4 linked regions of the Homo sapiens genome follow. The protein of the gene in region 1 purifies or fractionates together with the protein of each later gene. This does not show direct contact. Each region holds a gene or a part of one and is shown in the gene's direction. Other genes may lie near its edges.

Region 1 (3,500 bases):
GGGAGGTGGAGGTGGCAGTGAGCCAAGATTGCGCCACTGCACTCCAGCCTGGGCAATAGAGCGAGACTAAGTCTCAAAAAAAAAAAAAAAATATAAGGAATCATGGGAAAGACATTTTACATACCTCTGTAACTTCAGAATGTAGACAGTGACTACCAAACCGATTGTAATGCATAAGTTTGTTTGTTTGTTTTTGAGACAGGAGTCTCACTCTGTTGCCCAGGCTGGAGTGCAGTGGCATGATCTTGGCTCACTGCAACCTCTGCCTCCCGAGTTGAAGCGATTCTCCTGCCTCAGCCTCCTGAGTAGCTGGGATTACAGGCGCCCACCACCATGCCTGGCTAATTTTTGTATTTTTAGTAGAGATGGGGTTTCACCATGTTGGCCAGGCTGGTCTTGAACTCCTGACCTCAAGTGATCCGCCCACCTCAGCTTCCCAAATTGCTGGGATTACAGGCGTGAGCCACTGCACCCAGCCATGTAATAAGTTTCGGTGAGTGAGTGGAGTGAGGGCTCGTTGGAGGATGTGGATGGATAGATGGATGAATTAGAATTGTGGTTTGAGACCTTTTCTTCTTCTCTTTGTCTTCTTTCCCCTTTCTCATGCCTCCAGAATTAAAGATTGTAAAGAAAAATAAAGGGACATGTTTTTAAATATCTTAGCGATATCTTTGTTTTTTTTTTCAATGATGACACTCTTTGTGGCCCAGACCTTTTTAAACTCCCAAGGATTCAGATTTTGAAATTCCAGGTTTGCAAGATCATCTAGTACCTGCACTAGATTTTTAACTTAGGATACTCCAGGATATGCTTTAAATCTGTACCTTCTAATATGTAGCCACTGGCCACATGTGACTGTTGAGCACCTAAACTAGGACTAGTCCAAATTGAGGCATGCTGTAAGTGTGAAGTACACACCAGATCTTGAAGACTTAGTATGGAAAAAAAGAACGTAAAGTATCATTAATAATTTCTTTTTTTATTACATTTTAAAAGATAATATTTTGGATATATTAGATTAAATAACTTAAAATTAATTTTACCAATTTCTTTTTACTTTTTTATTATGGTTACTGGAATATTTAAAATTACATATGTGGCTTCTGTTATTCTATATTTCTACTATATTTCTATTCTATCAATATTTCTACTGAATATATAGAGCATTTTTCCCTTCCCTCTTCACTCTTTCTCCTACCCCCTTACGTTTTCGATCTAATCTCTTTAGATAGTAATATACCTAGTAATGTATCTTCCAAATTGCTTAGGGTGTGTGGTATAGTGCTGCTTTTGAAATGGAGCAGTTAAGTCCCAACCTGGGATCTCCAGACTCTTAACAGTACTTAAAAAAAAAAGAGAGGGACTAATAAAAAACATATTTGTCTATAAAGAAATGCACAGGCTATGTGAAAGGTAAGGTCATAATAAACCCAGCTGGAATTGTGTTAAATCTGTGCAGGATACTGATTGCCTGCTTCTGAACTGTGGGTATGGTTGGCTGTGGATAATGTAGAACATGTAAGAAATGATGGTCTGCTGCATGTACCAGGCCACATCTAAGAGTCTTATTGTTGAGCACAGCCACGTTTACACTGAATATAAACTTTATTCACCATTCCAGGCCTTGACCTTATATTCAGGAATGGCAGCCTGGCATGGTGAATAGAACTTATTAGGGTGCATCGTAGATTTGCTCAGTAGGGGCTCAGGAATTGACACAAATGCTGACGGAGTTGGAACAAGTAAATTATATGTCTGGAAGATAAATATTTAAATAATTAGATTAAGGGTGGAAATGATAAAAGTGTACTTTGTTATAAAGATTGGAGATCCCAGTAAGAGTAATATGCTCTATGAAAAATTGTAAGTTCTTATATTACATTATTAGTTTATGAGTACTTGTTACTGTTTTCACATTTTTGCTTATACTCATACAGTACTCCTACTTTGCTATACTCACACTGGTTTATCTCCCAAGCCTCAGGTAGATCATGCTTCCCTGACTCCCCCAGACAGGTTTTTCCTGTACCCTCAAAACATTTATCAGTGTTCTCATTTTATATTTATGTGTAATTTTACATTATGTTCACCTTTCTCATAAATTTTGCCAGATCAGGAACCGTGTCTTTGGCCACTGTTACATCCCCAGAACGTTGACTAGTGTTTTATGAGTAGAAGATGCTTTGTGAACATTTGTTTGGTTAATTAGGTACCAGTTTGGTAGCCAATATATGATACTAAAGGTTTATATTGTGAACGTGGAACTGTATTGAAACGTTAATGTTATTGCTGCCATCCCCAGGGCAATAGTCTGACCTTGATTGACCTTCCCGGCCATGAGAGTTTGAGGCTTCAGTTCTTAGAGCGGTTTAAGTCTTCAGCCAGGTAAGAAGGAAAGAAGTGAAGTGGGCTTGTCTAGGTCTGTATCTGTATATCAAAGCCACTCATGTGATTTGCTCTGGTGGTGTTTGGGAGGCAGCATGGTATCCTGTGGTAGACCTTGAGGTGACCTTGGGGTCAGCCAGTTCTGGGTTGCAAGTCCACCTTCACCTGGATGATGAGGATTTTATGGGATTAAAATGCTTAAAAAGTGTTTTTTAGTGTTTAGGAAATGTTAACCCTTCTTGTCATTGTTACTAAATGTTTGCATTTATTCTGAAGGTGAATTTAATAATGTATATGACTATTAAAATCTGAAAAAAGAATTTTAAAGCTGGGATGAATCCTAGCAGTTTTTAAATGCCAACATCATTTATATATATAGTGTTTTTTTGTTTTTTTTTTTTGAGATGGAGTCTCACTCTGTTGTCCTGGCTGGAGTGCAGTGGTGTGATCTCGGCTCACTGCAACCTCCACCTCCTGGGTTCAAGTGATTCTCCTGCCTCAGCCTCCTGAGTAGCTGGGATTACAGGCACGCACCACCACACCCTGCTAATTTTTCATAATTTTAGTAGAGATGGGGTTTCACCATGTTGGCCAGGCTTGTCTCGAACTCCTGACCTCATGATCCGCTGGCCTCAGCCTCCCAAAGTGCTGGAATTACAGGCGTGAGCCACTGCACCTGGCCCATATATATTCTCAAATTACGTAAAATTGATGTTTCAAGAAGTACAGAACAATATTTCCATATTTCTTTTAGTGTGTGCTCTGGTGTTACTGACTCTTAAGTTCTTCCCTAAAAAGTCTTATGCTGCAGTTTCAGATGCTTCTTTTTTGGTCTCTAACATTAATAAGAACTGAAGAGGAAAATCAGTATGCCACATTTCACTGATTTGAAGACACATTTTAATATCTCTGAATTTAGAATATATCTTATAGTTGATGGTGTCATAGTTTAATTGGCAGTATTTTCTCTTAGCGGTCCCTAAAATAATGTCTTTAATTGGCAGCATTTTAGTTTTGATGGAATGAAGTAGTAGATTCTTTGCCTTTTATTGAAGATGTCTAGACTGAAATTTCATTATTGCATCTTTGCCCACAAGATGGTGGTGATGAACAAT
Region 2 (3,500 bases), on another chromosome or scaffold:
CCAGCCTGGACAACATGGTGAAACCCCATCTCTACTGAAAACACAAAAATTAGCTGGGCATGGTGGCATGTGCATGTAATCCCAGCTACTTGGGAGGCTGAGGCAGGAGAATTGCTTAAACTCTGGAGCTGGAGGTTGCAGTGAGCCAAGATCATGCCACTGCACTCCAGGCTGGGCGACAGAGGGAGACACTGTCTCAAAAAATAATAATAATAATAAAGAAAGAATGTATAAGGTCAGGTGAAGTGGCTCATGCTTGTAATCCCAGCACTTTGGGAGGCAGGAGGGTCACTTTAGATTAGGAGTTTGAGACCAGCCTGGCCAACATGGTGAAATCCTGTCTCTCAAAAAAACCCACAAAAATTAGCTGGGTGTGGTGGTGGACACCTGTAATCCCTGCTACTTGGGGAGCTGAGAGGAGAATTGCTTGAACCCAGGTAGTGGAGGTTGCAGTGAGCCAAGGTTGCAACACTGCATTTCAGCCTGGGATGATAGAGCAAGACTCCATCTTAACAAAACAAAACAAAAAAAAAAAAAAGAAAAGAAAAGAAAAGGAAAGAATGTATGAGAGTGTCTGGTTCCTTGTCCCTTTCCAAAACTGTCTTCTCAGTTTCCTAATCTGATAGGTGGAAGTGGTATCTTGTTTTAGTGTGTATTTCTTTTCTTTTCTTTTCTTTTTTCTTTTTTTTTTTTGAGACGGAGTCTTGCTCTGTCACCCAGGCTGGAGTGCAGTGGCACAGTCTCGGCTCACTGCAACCTCCGCCTCCCGGGTTCAAGTGATTCTCCTGCCTCAGCCTCCTGCGTAGCTGCGATTGTGCGCCACCATGCCCAGCTAATTTTTGTGTTTTTAGTAGAGATGGGGTTTCACCATATTGGTCAGGCTGGTCTCGAACTCCTGACCTCGTGATCCACCTGCCTTGACCTGCTGGGATTACAGGCGTAAGCCACCACACCTGGCCAGATATATTTTAAAAGTGTTTGTTAGCTTTCTCCACTCATTCATTTTATGGCAGAAGTTGTTTCCAAACATATCCTTTACTGTGTTTCTTTTTTCTTTTTTTTTTTTTTTTTTTTGAGACAGAGTCTCGCTCTTTCACCAGGCTGGAGCGCAGTGGCGCGATCTCGGCTCACTGCAACCTCCGCCTCCCGGGTTCAAGCGATTTTCCTGCCTCAGCCTCCCGAGTAGCTGGGACTACAGGCGCACGCCACCACGCCTGGCTAGTTTTTATATTTTTAGTAGAGACGGGGTTTTACCGTGTTTGCCAGGATGGTTTCCATCTCTTGACCTTGTGATCCGCCCACTTCAGCCTCCCAGAGTGCTGGGATTACAGGCGTTGAGCCACCGCGTCCAGCCCTTCTGTGTTTCTTAACATACCACACACATAGACACAGTTCAGCCTAAAAACAAACAAACAAAAACTTGTGTCTGGGCGCACTGGCTCACACCTGTAATCCCAGCACTTTGGGAGGCTGAGGTGAACGGATCATGAGGTCAAGAGATCGAGACCATCCTGGCCAACATGGTGAAAACCTGTCTCTACCAAAAATACAAAAAATTAGCTGCGCGTGGTGGCACGTGCCTGTAGTCCCAGCTACTCAGGAGGCTGAGGCAGGAGAATCGCTTGAACCCGGGTGGCGGAGGTTGCAGTGAGCCGAGATCGCGCCACTGCACTCCAGCCTGTAGACAGAACAAGGCTCCGTCTCCAAAAAAAAAAAAAAAAAAAAAAAACCACTTTTGTAGTTTGCATCAAGAAAGCTAGTATATAAAACTTTGTACTTAGTCCAAGGGAAGTGGCGCCGGTTGTTGACAGACGCCACTTCCCTTTTTGCTTCATGCGCACGCGCCGCATTCTCGTCCACCTATTGGTGAATTGTAGGTTTCTTTCCAAAGACTACATTTCCCAGAAGGATGGTTGTTTGGTTTTTTTTTTTTAACCATCACTTATGAATTGTTGTGGAAAAGATGTTAGAGACTATTTAGTGTTACATATAAAGAAAGAGAGATCCCAAAAGGTGAAATAACTGGTTCAAGAGCATAGATAGTGGAATAGGGCTACAACTCTGCCTCTGGGGCTCCTAGTCTAGCGTGTTTGCTAGATTCACACATTAAAATGATTCTCTTTGTAATTTTCTTTACAAATCATGCAATGTATTTAAATAGTGAACTGATGGTAACAATTTATAGAGCAAATCTGTTGCATAAAGTAGCACTTTATAAATATCCTAGGTGTGTTAATAGATATTAACATGGAAGAAAGAGAGCAATATAGAGAACTTCTCTCCCCCAGCGCCCCCACTTTTTTAAACAGAGCATCTTAGGGTATTAATATGTAGGAAAATGCCCTGGAACACTGACACACACATATAACTCAAAACCTAAGGAATCACTGAGCCAGGTTGCACCATTGGCAGGAGAAGTCATTTAAATTTGGTCACTGGGGCTGGGCGTGGTGACTCACGCCTTGTAATTCCAGCACTTTGGGAGGCCAAGGCAGGCAGATCACCTGAGGTCATGAGTTCGAGACCAGCCTGGCCAGCATGGCAAAAACCCGTCTCTAATAAAAATACAAAACTTAGCCGGTTGTGGTGGTGCACGTCTGTAAGCCCAGCTACTCGGGAGGCTGAGGCAGGAGAACTGCTTGAACCCGGGAGGCAGAGGTTGCAGTGGGCCGAGATCGCGCCATTGCACTCCAGCCTGGGCGACAGAGCGAGACTCTGTCTCAAAAATAAGTAAATAAGTTTGGTCACGGGGAGGAAAGTAATATTTACCTGGTATATTTCTCAATGAAAAACTTGTGTCATGATCCACGTCAGTGTTTATAAGTGCCTCTGCGATGGTCCTGCCAAGGTCCTTTACCTGACGGCCTGGTGAAGGTGAAGGTCAGAGCAGGAAAAACGCAAGAGTGGTGCGCATCCCTTCTGGGTAGTAGTGATTACAGTCTGTAAAAGCCACAACTGACTTGAAGAGCTAACTTAATAATGTAATAGTTAAAACGAGGTCATTTATTCACCATTGAACCTTAACAAGATATCTGCAGAACACAGCTTGAAGGGGACCGAAGACAGAACCTCTTGGATGATCTTGTAACTCGAGAGAGACTACTTCTGGCATCCTTTAAGAATGAGGGTGCCGAACCAGATCTAATCAGGTAGGATGTTTTTATTTACAGGGATTACTTGGTGGGCGAAGACTTCTTTGCAGATACTACAGCTGTTTCCTGAATGGCTTACTTTAGGAATTAATCAAAATCTATTCTATTCATTTATGGTGTTTGACTATAATTTTCTACTCAATTTAGTTTTCGTTAATTTTTGTTTGTTTGTTTGAGACAGAGTCTCGCTCTGTCACCCAGGCTGGAGTGCAGTGGCGTGATCTTGGCTCTCTGCAAGCTCCACCTCCCAGGTTTCCACCATTCTACTGCCTCAGCCTCCCAAGTAGTTGGGATTACAGGCGCCCACCGCCACCGTGCCCGACTAATTTTTTGTATTTTTAGTAGAGA
Region 3 (3,500 bases), on another chromosome or scaffold:
CGTTTTTTTCTTGGCTCTGCGGATGGCAGTCTCAGTGGTTAACAGCATAAAATAGGGTTCTTCCCAGGCTGGCTCAAGTTTTTTCTTTCTGTCTTTTGATGAGGACGTGGTTTTCAGGCTGGTGCTGGTGTACTGGAAATTCTAGGGGTGGTACCTAGAACTAAAAGTCTTTTAGTTCTGAGGGAAGGGAAACTGGAAGATAAATTAAGTATATCATTTTTGCTGCATATCCTGGGGCTTGAGGCCCCATGGTGATGCCTCCCGCTCCATTCCTGCTCAGCGCCGCCCAGGGGACACTGCGGCCCTGCCTCCTCTTAAGCTCTTGGCCTTCTTGGGGCCTTCACTGCCCCTGTGCACTGTGGCCTTGGACATGAGGGGCCTTGTGACTTACCTGGCCACCTTCAGGCCTTAAGAAAGCTAAACACCATTTTATATTTGACAGTGCTTTTTGTATGATTTTATACCAGATAAGTTAAATTTTACCTTTATACTAATGTGCTATTAATGTTAAACTTAATAAAATCTTTTTTTTTTTTTTTTGAGACAGAGTCTTGCTCTGTCGCCCAGGCTGGAGTGCAGTGGCGCAATCTCAGCTCACCGCAAGCTCCGCCTCCCGGGTTCACGCCATTCTCCTGCCTCAGCCTCCTGAGTAGCTGGGACTACAGGCGCCCGCCACCATGCCCAGCTAATTTTTTGTATTTTTTAGTGGAGATGGGGTTTCACCGTGTTAGCCAGGATAGTCTCGATCTCCTGACCTCGTGATCCGCCCGCCTCAGCCTTCCAAAGTGCTGGGATTACAGGCGTGAGCCACCGTGCCCGGCCAAACTTAATAAAATCTTGTAGACATTATTTATTCAATTTTAATGTCTGACTATAGGGTAAGATTTTTATAGACTCTTTTTAAGCTTTTATAATTTTTGTTAAAGAGCGGGTTAGTGCTTTAAGAAAAATCTATTGTGCTTTTAACATCCAGTTCACAGAAAAACTGCATGATACCCCTTTAGCTTTAGCCAATATGTTTACACACAGAATTTCCTTTACAATTAACATTTTAAAACTTGCTTAAACCTTTAAAACAAAATATATTTTTTAACCTTTTAATGTAGGTAAAAATCCATATTATGTCTCCTTATAATCCTGTTATTAAAAGTATTATTTTATTTTTCTGACATACCTTGTATATAAACTGTTTTTTTTTAAATAATTTTACATTCAGGAGGCCTAATTACTTTTAAATTATACACTATTTCTTGCATAAATTCCCTTTTATAGCTTTTCTTACAACTTTCACAATCTTCAACATGTCTTAACTTTCTGCCTGCCTTTTACGCTATTTCTTTTTCTCAGTTTCACCCTCTATGTCTTCCTTTGATTTCTGTCTCTTCCAGTTTCTCTCTTATTCTTTCCCTCTGTATTTTAATCTCTTTCTGTCTCTTCTCTCTCTTCACTCTCTTCATCCCCTGCTTCCTTCTTCCCTCCTGAGTTCTCCCGCTCCTGCAGCAGCAGGGCCGGGCAATGGCACCAGCCCCTGGGCATGCACTGCCGTCAGTTTCTCTATCCACCCCCACCATTCCCCTTTTTACTTTTTTTCCCCTTTCTTCCTACACTTAGTTTCTCGGGCTGGGTGGGATTTGCATGGCTGCAGTCCGGCCCCGGCAGCCCAGAGGCTTGGCAGATGCCTGCCACAAATTGCAAGAATTATGCCCTCTCACCTCCTCTGCTCTCTTCCTGGCGCCGCTGTGCTTGCTGTTTTTGCTTTCTTTTTTTCTGACTTCCTCTCCTAGTTCTTTTTCCTGTCTGCTGGTCTTTCCTTTGTCTCTGCCAGCCACCTATGCTGCTGTTTTCCCCCCTCTCCTTCCCCTTCCCCTGGGGGACCAACCAGCGGGAGTGAAGCTTAGCCTTTTTCTTTCCCTGTGAAGAGGGGAAAAGGGAGTTTTGAATATATATATATATATATATATATATATATATATATATATATATATTTTAACTACTGGAGGTTTGTGTGAGGTTCAACCCCCTGAAATTAATGGAAGACTTAACCCCTCAAACCAGGGGTGTCTTGCCTTGCCTGCCCTGGGAGGTTGACCTGTTTCCTCCTTTCCCCCCAAAGGTCCCTTGCATACTTCCCACTTGTGTTGTCCTCTCTGGTCGCCCCCCCAAGGGAGAATTAGGCCCCTCTTAGTGTAGGCGTGCTGGTATAAATCCCACAGCAGGACCTGCCCTAAGCCATATGAGGTCACTACAGAACCGGAACCATGGAGGGGACCCACTCACTGTCCAGCAGGAGGACTTGTCACCGTCCACACAAACCACACTGCAAGCAGGGTTGTCTGTGATCATTCACACATACACACATTCAGCCCTCCAGAATTTCACCACCAAGGAAGTACTTTACCAGCTTCTGTGGCTTCTCCTTCCTTGGTCTGTGCACAGAGTTGCAGCCCTGGTATGTGAGCATCCTTTACCTTAGGTTGCTGGCCAGTTTCTTTTTTTTTTTTTTTTCTGCATTGCTGAGAGTCCGGGTTTATTCGTCACACCAGGTGGGTCTCAATTTCTCATCCCTGAGGCCACTGCAGTGAGGCAGAGGAGCGTGCTCCCTCATGAGAGAGGAACAGAGACCGCCCCCGCAGGAGAATGTAGCCCTGTACGGATTGCCACCAAATTGTTTGAAATGCTTGTTCCCCGGTGCCGTAAAGAAACAGCAGTTGAACATAAATTTAATTTACTCAGCAAGGACATTTTTACTTCCTGCAGAAAGGACACACTTGCCATCAGCTTTGCCACAAGAGTTCACCCAACAAAGGAAACAGGGTCATTTATAACCTGACGCGTCCACCCTATTGCCGTCTCTGGTTTCCATTGACTGGGATGGGACCTCACATTCTGTATCTGTCCCGATTGGCTAGCAACGTACAACTTTTTAAAAGAGGCAAAGGCAGAGGAGAACAAAGGAAGGAAGTAATTTGTGGAATGCTGAGAAAGGTAAAAACACCTTCAAATAAGGAAGAGGAACAGGCTATGACCTAATGCCCGCTTGGACCAGTATAAGCATGCCAGGGCAAATATTTAGGCTAAATTGTGGGAGCTAAGAACCTAAAGTAGTACATTGCTTTCTTTATTACTGCTAGCAGATATTTAATAATGTTAGCACAGGTCTTTGAATAAATTTTGCTTCTAAGAGAAGTTACTATTTATTCCTAATTAGATCGGTAGGAAAGTCTTTGAAGAGGAACCTCTACTTTACAACTAAACATCTAGAGGCTCGGAATGCCTCTTTCTGGGGATGCAGCCCAGCAGGCCCCAGCCTCATTTCCCAGCCCTCACTCAAAATGGAGTCGCTCTGGTTCCAGCGCCTCTGACACTGAGAGGTCATGTCAGGAATGGGGAAACTGAGGCTCAGAGGAGCTATGGCACTGCACAAAGCTACACGGCTCCCTGGTCTTCTGTTTCTGTTGAGTCATGTGAACCAAAAAGTATCGGAGATATGTCTCAGTCAA
Region 4 (3,500 bases), on another chromosome or scaffold:
GCTATTTGGTGCCCCTCAAACCATTTCTTGTAATAGTGGCTGAGGTGATTCTTTTAGTGGCCACCATTCTGCTTTGTGAAAAGTACACACAAAAGAAAAAGAAGCACTCAGGTGGGATTTCTTTTTTTTGTTTTTTGTTTTTTTTAGAAAGTATTATCAGTTAATTATAAGTATCATTTACTTATGATATGGATTATGATTTGATACATTGCAATGACTTTAGGATTTTTGGGGAAAATCTTCATTTTCTTATTTGGAGCAGTATTTAGGTTTACAACAATGGTGACAGTGAGCTGGAAACATATACCCATGGTCTTCCTGTTTCAATTCCTGAAAAAACTTAGTATTAAAAATGCCTTTTTTCTTTCTCTTCCCCCACCACCCCCCTCTTTTTTTTTTTTTTTTTTTTTTTGGTGCTACTGGTACCTAAGTACCAATTAGGTGATATGTATTCTGGCACTGGAATATTAGAAAAATCTATGATAGCTTAATATAAAAAGTCTAAAAGAAACAATTTTTCTTTCACTTAGATTATCATTTAAAAAAATATTTTATTAACCATTCCAGAGTTCTCATTAAAGAGAGACCATCCTGTCATGTCCTATTTTTGCGGCCTGTGCCTGATGGGTTACAGGTTGATAAAGCAGTAATCCTCTAGAAAATTGACCTTACGTCCTGTATTCTTTCCTGATTTTATACTAAATTTTTAATGATTTAAATAATGACAAACTAAGCAGTCATGTTTTTGAAAATACCAGGCCACTAAACTATGTTTGATCAGAAATGCAGATAAGGTCTGTAGTGCAGATAAAGGAGGTGTAGGTGTTTAAGGTAGCATGTCTCTCCTTCATTCCAAACAGGAGAAACAGCATAGTACTTACTTACTTAGGAAGGAGGTTTAATTGAGCATATATGTTCCATAAAAGTGACAAACCAACTTCACAGTCAAATTCTTCTTTTGTTACACAGATGAGGGGAAAGAATTTGAGCAGATTGAACAGCTGTAAGTATTATTTTTTACAGATTAATTTTCACTTGGGTAAAATACAGGGAAACATAAAATTGAATGAAATGTTTGCAGTTAGGGGGAGAAAAGGCAGAGGAGTATTTTCTGTATATGTCCACGTGGTGGTGGAAAGTGGCTTTCCAAGTCTGCCTACCTGCGTGAGAATTCTTCTTCATCACTTACTACCTGCACTTCTCTGTACTTCAGCTTTCTTCTCTACAAAATGGATTTAATAATAGTACTCACCATATGAGGTTGTTGGATGGAATGAATATTATATATGTGTAAATGCATAGCATAGGTTATGGTGCACAGAAGGTGTGCAGTAACCATCAGGAAGTATTTAATATTATTATTTTTAAAGCAATAGTTCTCAAGCCTGGCAATTTTTGATCACTTAAGAGCCTCTTTAAAAAAATACAGTTGCTCAGACCTTGCTGAATCTCCTGGATCAGAACCTCTTGGGTTGGGGCTATGGCATCTGTTATTTCTTGAAAACATCTACAAATGGTTTTGATCCTCTGTCTGTTGAAAATCACTGGCCTAGAATTCTATTAGTTATTATTATTCAGAGAACACAAATTGTGCCACAGGTTCTCTTACACAGCCTTTGTTTAGAGTTAAGCATGAGGAGGTCTGGAAATAAAATCACCAGGGATGTAATTTAGTTTGGCAAAGATGGGAGTTCCGAATTCCTCGAAGCCAGAGAACTGAGTATGGAGGCCAGTGACAGAGGTGTCCAAGACTGGGATTAAAGCCTGAACAATAGAGCCAAGGGCTGGAGTCCAGGAAAACGAGGCTAGATTAAAGTTGCTGCAAGAAACCTGAGAAGTGGAAGGCCTGAGCAACTATAACTAACACAAAATGGCACTTAGAGTTTATCAGCCAACAGGAGCTCTATGGAGTGAGTGTTACAGGCATGGATAGCAGGAGTGGAGCAGACAGTTGTCATTTAGATGTTTGTAGACATTATTCAGATAATCATGTTGACTCCATTCACATAGGCTGCTAAAATAAACCAATATGATATGAGCTTCCAAGTTAAGGGCACAAAATAACTACATCAGAAATCCTATAACACCAGATAGAGAAAAGCAATGTTGTCTTAGAATCATAGACTCCCATAGTTGGAAGGGAATTGTATCTCTCCCAAGAGAATCCCTTCTCTTTCTGGAGAACATAGATATCTTATTTATGTTGATTTGAACTTTTAATCTTTCCTATTTCCACGTATTGGCGTTTTTCTTGTTCTTAGCATCATATAACAAACGTGACAGTCATTGACATATTTGAAAACAGAACCTTGCTCGGATTCCTCTATTCTCCGAGCTCTGCCTCCCACTGTCTCTAACCATTCTTCTGAGCTCACATTTGGAAGTTGCATTCTGATTTAAAACACACTCTGAAAGGATGGTACCAGAACAGTGTGGAATGGACCATCACTTCTGAACAATGTAAAATGGATTCAATATATAGTGTAAAAGATGAATTATTTTTCTGAAAATTGGATCAATGTACATCATTTTGCTCATCTTGTATAGCACCATAAGGATCACTGAAGGTGTTTAGTTTTTCTTCAGGTTATTTCACTATCTTTAGATTGTATACAAATATCAAGGGCACTTGAAATCATTCAGAACAATGAGCTTCTTGATGTCCCTCAAACCATTTCTTGCAATAGTTGCTGAGGTGTTTTCTTAGTGGCCATTATTCTGCTTTTGAAGAGTACACACAAAAGAAAAACAAGCACTCGTGGGATTTCTTTTTTTTTAGAAAATATTAATTATCAGTTAATTGTAAGTAACACTGTCTTATAATATGCATTATGATTTGATAATTGACGCCTGCCCCCAAGACCTTGAAGGGCAAGGTATTCATTATGCATACTGGTTATTTAGTTTCCGTCAATCTTTAGAATCTGAGGCCCACATTTGTAGTCCTGCTCTGATAAACTTTGGGTGGAAAAAGAACCATTTTTAACCTCTATTTCAGTGTAATAAGCATACAAATGTATAGCACCAATATCACACATGTTGGCTGACCTCCTAATTGGCTATTACCTTGCATGTTTCCAAAACCACACATAAGTTATGGTCTTTACGCCCAAGTCCTCACTCATGCTTGGGGAGAAGCAATTCTCCCTGTGCATAAAATCAACAAGCCTTTGTCACTATCATTTGTGGTAACAGCTCCTCTTCAAGCAATGCCATAAAATAAATTCAACATTGTAAGTAAAACATTTTTAGGAAGAAAGAATTCTGTCCGTATTGACATTTTACATTTTAACCTGATAGCCATATCAGTGATGTACTGACTTAATTTTATATAATATAAGCATTTAGTAATTTTCTTTTTTGTTTTCTGTGCAGGAAATCAGATGATAGCAATGGTATAGAAAATAATGTCCCCAGGCATAGAAAAAATGTAAGTTACTTCTGAATGATATTCCAAATAAAAGGTCAAATTCAATATACATAGGCTATCTATCAATCAG

Evidence for each region. The genes of interacting proteins can lie anywhere in the genome.
Region 2: the proteins of SRPRB (region 1) and STX8 purify together in Homo sapiens (affinity purification with mass spectrometry; 4 studies listed by BioGRID and IntAct, with this or other methods). This does not show direct contact.
Region 3: the proteins of SRPRB (region 1) and THEM6 purify together in Homo sapiens (affinity purification with mass spectrometry; 4 studies listed by BioGRID and IntAct, with this or other methods). This does not show direct contact.
Region 4: the proteins of SRPRB (region 1) and EMB purify together in Homo sapiens (affinity purification with mass spectrometry; 4 studies listed by BioGRID and IntAct, with this or other methods). This does not show direct contact.

What each region holds. Positions count from the first base shown.
Region 1 is NC_000003.12:133,808,815-133,812,314, forward strand, and holds part of SRPRB (signal recognition particle receptor subunit beta), read left to right. Parts: intron 1-2,302; coding exon 2,303-2,385; intron 2,386-3,500. UniProt on the Homo sapiens protein: Component of the signal recognition particle (SRP) complex receptor (SR). Ensures, in conjunction with the SRP complex, the correct targeting of the nascent secretory proteins to the endoplasmic reticulum membrane system.
Region 2 is NC_000017.11:9,544,821-9,548,320, reverse strand, and holds part of STX8 (syntaxin-8), read left to right. Parts: intron 1-3,038; coding exon 3,039-3,149; intron 3,150-3,500. UniProt on the Homo sapiens protein: Vesicle trafficking protein that functions in the early secretory pathway, possibly by mediating retrograde transport from cis-Golgi membranes to the ER.
Region 3 is NC_000008.11:142,730,223-142,733,722, forward strand, and holds part of THEM6 (protein THEM6), read left to right. Parts: intron 1-3,500.
Region 4 is NC_000005.10:50,399,789-50,403,288, reverse strand, and holds part of EMB (embigin precursor), read left to right. Parts: coding exon 1-111; intron 112-969; coding exon 970-1,003; intron 1,004-3,375; coding exon 3,376-3,430; intron 3,431-3,500. UniProt on the Homo sapiens protein: Plays a role in the outgrowth of motoneurons and in the formation of neuromuscular junctions.